Homo sapiens: one gene and its partner. The protein of the gene in region 1 interacts with the protein of each later gene in a biochemical or structural test. Each region holds a gene or a part of one and is shown on either strand. Other genes may lie near its edges.

Region 1 (3,749 bases):
GCCAATGGCAACAATGTCAAACGTGAGGCTTGGGGCTCTTGGCACCCACAGGTCCTGCTTGGGGATTGCTCCTGGGCCAGAGACCATCAAAGGACCATCAAAGCTCCAAGGTGGTCATGTGTTCATGGAGACTGTGATCCAGTGTCTTAGGCCGAGTTACTTGGGAAGCAAATCTTAAGGCCATGACTGGGTGTAAATTGTTTATCTGGGAGGTGATCCCAGGAAGCCCCAGGAGCAATGACCCACTGCGGGGTAAGTGTGGAACACATCCCAGAGTTGGAGAAGCTGAGGGTGAAGGAGCTGGGGTATTTATACACCCGCTGTCCGTGGTGTTGACTGGGGGCTGCCCCTGGAGTTATTACCTCTCTGGCACTTTCTGGCCTGCCATGTGTCCTGGCCAGTAGAAATCCATCAGCATGAAGAAAACAGTGAGTAATTGTGGTGACATGGATGGCCACTGACACTGGATGCTGCTGACAGCCAGAGAAGCCAGATTAACTGAATCTGGAAGAGGAGGGAGAGGTCCTGTGAGGGGCATAAAAAATGCCTCTGGAATGGCCATGCAGAGGATTGCAAGTCCTGGGCCTGAGTCCTTCTCTGAACCAGCCCCATGCTGGGGCTTGGAAACACCAAGGAGAGGCAGACACAGCCTCCAGTGTCAGCAAAGGTCTCAGCGAATGGGGAAGACATATGCATGAACAAAAAAAGTACAGCCAGGTGTAAGTGATACACAGCAGCTCTGAACAGGGAGCAATTACCTCTGCTAGGAGGGGTTTCTGAGAGAGCATCTGATTACCTTCTGCTTGGCTTCCTGAGGGATGAGTAGGAGTTTTCTAGGCAGGCAAGGGCAGGAGAAGGATCTTGAGCAAAGGCATAAAGAAAAAGCATGTCCGGCCGGGCCCGGTGGTTCACGCCTCTAATCCCAGCACTTTGTGAGGCCGAGGCAGGTGGATCACCTGAGGTCAGGAGTTTGAGACCAGCCTGGCCAATATGGTGAAACCCCGTCTCTACTAAAAATACCAAAATTAGCTGGGCGTGGTGGCAGGTGCCTGTAATCCCAGCTACTTGGAAGGCTGAGGCAGGAGAATCGCTTGAACCTGGGAGGTGGAAGTTGTAGTGAGCGGAGGTCGTGCCATTGCACTCCAATCTGGGTACCAAGAGCAATATTCTGTCTCAAGAACAAAGAAAAAGCCTGTCCTTAAGGACCTGTGGGTAGAACCACTAGTGACGCTCTTAAGAGCAGGACCATAGTTGATCCATTCTATGTCCCAAACGCTGGAAATAGGGCCAGGCACACAGCCAGGGTTGTGGGTGTGGCCATGAGGCTGCTGAGATGAAATGGGGAGCAGCTGAAGACAGACACCAGGCCCAGCCGCTGTCTTGATGACCTCAGAAATATCACTTGTCGAGGCCATGGGCCCCTCATCTATAAAATGGGTGTCATCCTGGTACTACCTTGCATAGTTGCTGTGCAGATCATGTGCCACACACATGCTTGGCCCAGAGCAGGCACTCACCATCCTTTTTCCTTACGCAGCCTCTGGATTATGAATACATCCAGCAATACAGCTTCATCGTCGAGGCCACAGACCCCACCATCGACCTCCGATACATGAGCCCTCCCGCGGGAAACAGAGCCCAGGTCATTATCAACATCACAGATGTGGACGAGCCCCCCATTTTCCAGCAGCCTTTCTACCACTTCCAGCTGAAGGAAAACCAGAAGAAGCCTCTGATTGGCACAGTGCTGGCCATGGACCCTGATGCGGCTAGGCATAGCATTGGGTAAGGGGGCGTGTGTCGATGAGAATGATAAGGACAATCCGGCCTGGATGTTCCTATGCCTGCTGGTCTGAGGCCAGGACTCAGAGAGGGGAACTGGCTTCTCCTAGCACTTACAGGGAAAGTGACAGAGGCAAGACCAGAAGCCCAAGCTCTTGCACTTGGCAGCCTGGCATCTTGACCTGCCTGGACTCCCCCACCTAGCATGGTCCTGGGCATCCAGAGCTACTTGTCCTCTGTCCGGCCTTGAAGGCTTATTCTCTGCACCACAGCTCTCACCAGTCCTATGTGGTAAGATCTGACAGTCAAGAAAGCAACCAATCAGACGACACACCAGAGGCCCCTTCACTAAAACTGTATTCTTGAATCTATCTTCCCCAAACCACAAAAGTAAGAAGTGTTCATTTTATACAGTGAAACAACACAGAGATCTACCAAGAAAACACTGATAACCCCCACTCTCAGATAACTCATGTTCGTGGCCTAACCTGGTCCTATTGCTCCTTTCTTTTCGTGACCACACAAACATGTGGATGCATTTATGGTGGGTTTGTTGTTGTCTGTTTGCTTTTGATGTTTGATTGTTTTAAAATTTTTTTGGATCATGCCATGCTGGTTTCATCGATATTTGCTCTTCTATCTTAACTAAATTTCTCTTTTACAATCTTTAGAAAAAAATGATATAGTTCCAACAGATACTTTTTAGAGCCATATAATATGCAATAGTAAGTATAAATTCAATTCAATCTTATTTTATTGTAGATGCATAGCTGATTTTGCCAGCACCATTTACTAAATATTATAATAATAAGTCATCGTTTTCCCACCTTCATTATATACTAAGTTTTCTGTATATACCTGTATCTACTTCTAATTCTCTGTCCTATCCATCATTCTATAGCAAAGCTATTCTGTTTTATTCTACTAGCTTGTATAAGTCCATTCTCCTATAAAGAAATAGTTAAGACTGGGTAATTTATAAAGAAAAGAGGTTTAACAGGAAGTATAGTGGCTTCTCCTTCTGGGGAGGCCTCAGAAAACTTACAGTCCTGGGGAAGCAGGCACGTCTTACACGGCCAGAACAGGAGTGGGAAGGGAGTTGTTACACACTTTTCAACAACCTGGTCTCATGATAACTCACTAGCTTGAGAACAGAACCTAGGGGATGGAGCTAACCCATTCATGAGAACTCTGTCCCATGGTCTATCCACCTCCCACCAGGGCCCACCTCCAACACTGGGGATTACATTTCAACATGAGATTCGGTGGGGACACAGATCCAAACCATATAGCTTTACACTAGATCTTAGATATACATAAAAGTCCTTCCCATGTTGCTTTTTTATTTGATATAATTTTTTGTCAACTCTCATTTTTTCTTTTGTGAAATTTAAAATTTTGTATCCAGGTTTTTTAAACATTAGAATTCTAGTGTTTATATATTAATTTTGGTATAGCTAATGTTTCAAGGGTATTAAGTCTTCTTATTAAGGACAAAATATGTTCTTCCATTTTGGCCTCATATCCTAAGTTTTGGGACTACTCTTCATTGCCATTCTTTTCTAAATAGCCTGTAATTATAATTTTTGTTTCTCCTTTGATCCAAGGGTTTATTTAAGAGATTGACTTGATTTCTTTATTTTCATTTATAAGTCATAGGGTGTTTTTTTTGTTTTGCTTTAGCTTGTTCTGTGATGTGATACAATTGTATTTGTGTCCACTTCTTCCTAGAATATCTAAGTTTTGACTTTATGTATTTAAATTTTTCTATTCAGTTAACAAAGGTTTGCAACTATTTTACCTTCATTATGGTTTGTAACTTTCATCCAAATGTAATTAGCCAATTTGTTCTGCTTAAATATTTTGCCTTTAATTCTGTTTCCTGATGTTACATTTGTTAGTCCTGTTTTCATGTTATTCATATACGCCTAATGCAAATTTTACAACCTTTACTTTTAATTTTTCCA
Region 2 (3,749 bases), on another chromosome or scaffold:
CCCCCACTGGCTGTGCGCCCCCAACCGGCTGTGCGCCTTGGCCTTTCCCGGGTCCAGAATCTGACAGCACTCACACCTCTGACTTCCACACTTGGGCTTCTAGCCAGTGTCCAGGCACAGGATGAGCAGGACTGAGGAGCGTGTCTGTGTCCTCTTCTGGTGCAGGTCAATAAGCATGCGTTTTCTGGAGGGAGAGACACCATCGAGGAGCACAGGCAGTTTGGGGGCAACTGTGATGTGGACGTGTCTTTCATGTACCTGACCTTCTTCCTCGAGGACGACGACAAGCTCGAGCAGATCAGGAAGGTGAGCAGGGAACCCCAAGGGCCCACAGCCGCCTTCTGCCACCCACTCCTGCCCATGGGGCCTGGAAGGCTCCAACAGCCAGGCATGAAGGCTTGGTCGGAGGTGCTCAACTGAAACAAGGTGAAAACTGAGTAGACTCGCCCTCATGGTTTTTAGGCCTGGGCTCAGAAGCCTCATGAACAAATCTCGAAAGAGCAGATACAAATCACTATTCATTTAGGAGCCACCCAAAACAGTCTTGCTTTATTAGTCATCAGAGAAATGTAAGTTAACGTGATCAAAGCTAAGACAGTTGAGTATAGAATTAGTAGGGGCTTTTGTGTTGCCATTGACTATTTTCAGTGATTATGAAGCAGATGCTTCAAGGCACACTCAAGTGAGCAGAGTGTTTATCAGCACAGCCTCAGGAAGCAGTTTGGTACTGGGTACAAAGAGCCCAAAAATGTTCAGAGCTTCTCCTCAGGTTTTCTCATTCTTAGATTTTTTCCAAGGAAATAATCCTGAGTAAGAGAAAGCTTTCCACACAAAGATGTTAAAAATGATAATAGCAAAAAGTTCAACACAGACTCAGTACAACAGAGGAAACGTTAAATTAGAATTGTTACAGGGTGGATTATTATGCGGGCATGAACTATTTTAAGTGTTCATATGCAGGGCATGGTGGCACACATCTGTAGCCCCTGCTACTTGGGAAGCTGAGACAGGAGGATCCCTTGAGCCCAGGAGTTCAAATCCAGCCTGGGCGACATAGCAAGACCCTCATTTCTTTCTTTTTTTTTTTTTTTTGAGACAGAGTCCTGCTCTGTCACCCAGGCTGGAGTGCAGTGGCGCAATCTCGGCTCACTGCAAGCTCTGCCTCCCGGGTTCACACCATTCTCCTGCCTCAGCCTCCCGAGTAGCTGGGACTACAGGCACCCGCCACCATGCCCGGCTAATTTTTTTGTATTTTTAGTAGAGACAGGGTTTTACCGTCTTATTCAAGATGGTCTCGACCTCCCGACCTCGTGATCCACCCGCCTTGGCCTCCCAAAGTGCTTGGATTACAGCTGTGACCACCGCGTCCAGCCAAGACCCTCATTTCTTTTAAAAAAAAAAAAGTTTTAGTGACACAGGAAAATATGCCTATGATAGTGAAAAAAGGATACCAAATGAAAACTCAGGGAGGAGTTAACTATGTTTAAATGAAATGCACAGGGAAAGAAATGTGAAGAAAATCTACCAAATGTTAGCGGGAGACCCACCTCTGGGCATTTTTCAGGTGGGCAATTTGTAGGTGATTTTTCTTTACTTTGCTGCTGCTTTGTGGTTTGGGTACTTTATTAAATTTGCTTAATGAGCATGCAGTACAATCAGAAAAAGAAAAAATTAGCAAGATTTGGCTGGGCGCAGTGGCTCACGCCTGTAATCCTAGCACTTTGGGAGGCCGAGGCAGGTGGGGGGAGTGGATCACGAGGTCAGGAGATCGAGACCAGCCTGGCCAATATGGTGAAATCCCATCTCTACTAAAAATACAAAAATTAGCCAGGCGTGGTGGCAGGCACCTGTAATCCCAGCTACTCAGGAGGCTGAGGCAGGAGAATCACTTGAACCTGGGAGGCGGAGGTTGCAGTGAGCTGAGATCATGCCACTGCACTCCAACCTGGCAACAGAGTGAGACTCCATCTCAAAAAAAAAAAAATTAGCAAGATTTTACAGAAGCCATAAGGCTGCCAGGAATTGTTGTTGTTTAGTGCCTGGGGGAATGGCCCCTAGCATCGGTAGGGGTGGGGACTGCCCTCCCCATTGGCCCTTTCACTGTGAGAGGCCAAGTCATGGCTATCGTCAGAGCCAGGTTTCTAGCCGTTTTAGGAAAAGTGTAGCTGAAGGTATAGGTTATTGTTGTGGTAACAACAGATCTCACTTCTGAGTGCCACCCACGTGCCAGGCTCTGCATGGGTGGTGTGGGCTGAGCTGGTGCCCGAGGCAGGAAGGAGCCACTCAGGACATGTGGAGCCATCTCTCACGTGGCTGTCTCCCTCCGGGCAGGATTACACCAGCGGAGCCATGCTCACCGGTGAGCTCAAGAAGGCACTCATAGAGGTTCTGCAGCCCTTGATCGCAGAGCACCAGGCCCGGCGCAAGGAGGTCACGGATGAGATAGTGAAAGAGTTCATGACTCCCCGGAAGCTGTCCTTCGACTTTCAGTAGCACTCGTTTTACATATGCTTATAAAAGAAGTGATGTATCAGTAATGTATCAATAATCCCAGCCCAGTCAAAGCACCGCCACCTGTAGGCTTCTGTCTCATGGTAATTACTGGGCCTGGCCTCTGTAAGCCTGTGTATGTTATCAATACTGTTTCTTCCTGTGAGTTCCATTATTTCTATCTCTTATGGGCAAAGCATTGTGGGTAATTGGTGCTGGCTAACATTGCATGGTCGGATAGAGAAGTCCAGCTGTGAGTCTCTCCCCAAAGCAGCCCCACAGTGGAGCCTTTGGCTGGAAGTCCATGGGCCACCCTGTTCTTGTCCATGGAGGACTCCGAGGGTTCCAAGTATACTCTTAAGACCCACTCTGTTTAAAAATATATATTCTATGTATGCGTATATGGAATTGAAATGTCATTATTGTAACCTAGAAAGTGCTTTGAAATATTGATGTGGGGAGGTTTATTGAGCACAAGATGTATTTCAGCCCATGCCCCCTCCCAAAAAGAAATTGATAAGTAAAAGCTTCGTTATACATTTGACTAAGAAATCACCCAGCTTTAAAGCTGCTTTTAACAATGAAGATTGAACAGAGTTCAGCAATTTTGATTAAATTAAGACTTGGGGGTGAAACTTTCCAGTTTACTGAACTCCAGACCATGCATGTAGTCCACTCCAGAAATCATGCTCGCTTCCCTTGGCACACCAGTGTTCTCCTGCCAAATGACCCTAGACCCTCTGTCCTGCAGAGTCAGGGTGGCTTTTCCCCTGACTGTGTCCGATGCCAAGGAGTCCTGGCCTCCGCAGATGCTTCATTTTGACCCTTGGCTGCAGTGGAAGTCAGCACAGAGCAGTGCCCTGGCTGTGTCCCTGGACGGGTGGACTTAGCTAGGGAGAAAGTCGAGGCAGCAGCCCTCGAGGCCCTCACAGATGTCTAGGCAGGCCTCATTTCATCACGCAGCATGTGCAGGCCTGGAAGAGCAAAGCCAAATCTCAGGGAAGTCCTTGGTTGATGTATCTGGGTCTCCTCTGGAGCACTCTGCCCTCCTGTCACCCAGTAGAGTAAATAAACTTCCTTGGCTCCTGCTCTTGTCATTGTGCTCTGTCTGGGAGGTCTGAGGAGGGAGCAGAGACCCCTCCCCTCACCCTTCTGTGGATGACCTTGAGTCTGCTGGAGTCAAAATTTGGGGATGAAAGCGCACAGTCCCAGGAACCCCATGGTGTTGTGCCACAGCTCCCAGGAATGGGCTTGTGCTG

What was found.
Region 2: the proteins of CDH5 (region 1) and WARS1 form a complex in vitro, tested with the Homo sapiens proteins (one study listed by IntAct).

Annotation. Positions count from the first base shown.
Region 1 is NC_000016.10:66,390,599-66,394,347, forward strand, and holds part of CDH5 (cadherin-5 preproprotein), read left to right. Parts: intron 1-1,537; coding exon 1,538-1,785; intron 1,786-3,749. UniProt on the Homo sapiens protein: Cadherins are calcium-dependent cell adhesion proteins. They preferentially interact with themselves in a homophilic manner in connecting cells; cadherins may thus contribute to the sorting of heterogeneous cell types.
Region 2 is NC_000014.9:100,333,619-100,337,367, reverse strand, and holds the end of WARS1 (tryptophan--tRNA ligase, cytoplasmic), read left to right. Parts: intron 1-165; coding exon 166-306; intron 307-2,331; coding exon 2,332-2,493; 3' UTR 2,494-3,578; downstream 3,579-3,749. UniProt on the Homo sapiens protein: Catalyzes the attachment of tryptophan to tRNA(Trp) in a two-step reaction: tryptophan is first activated by ATP to form Trp-AMP and then transferred to the acceptor end of the tRNA(Trp).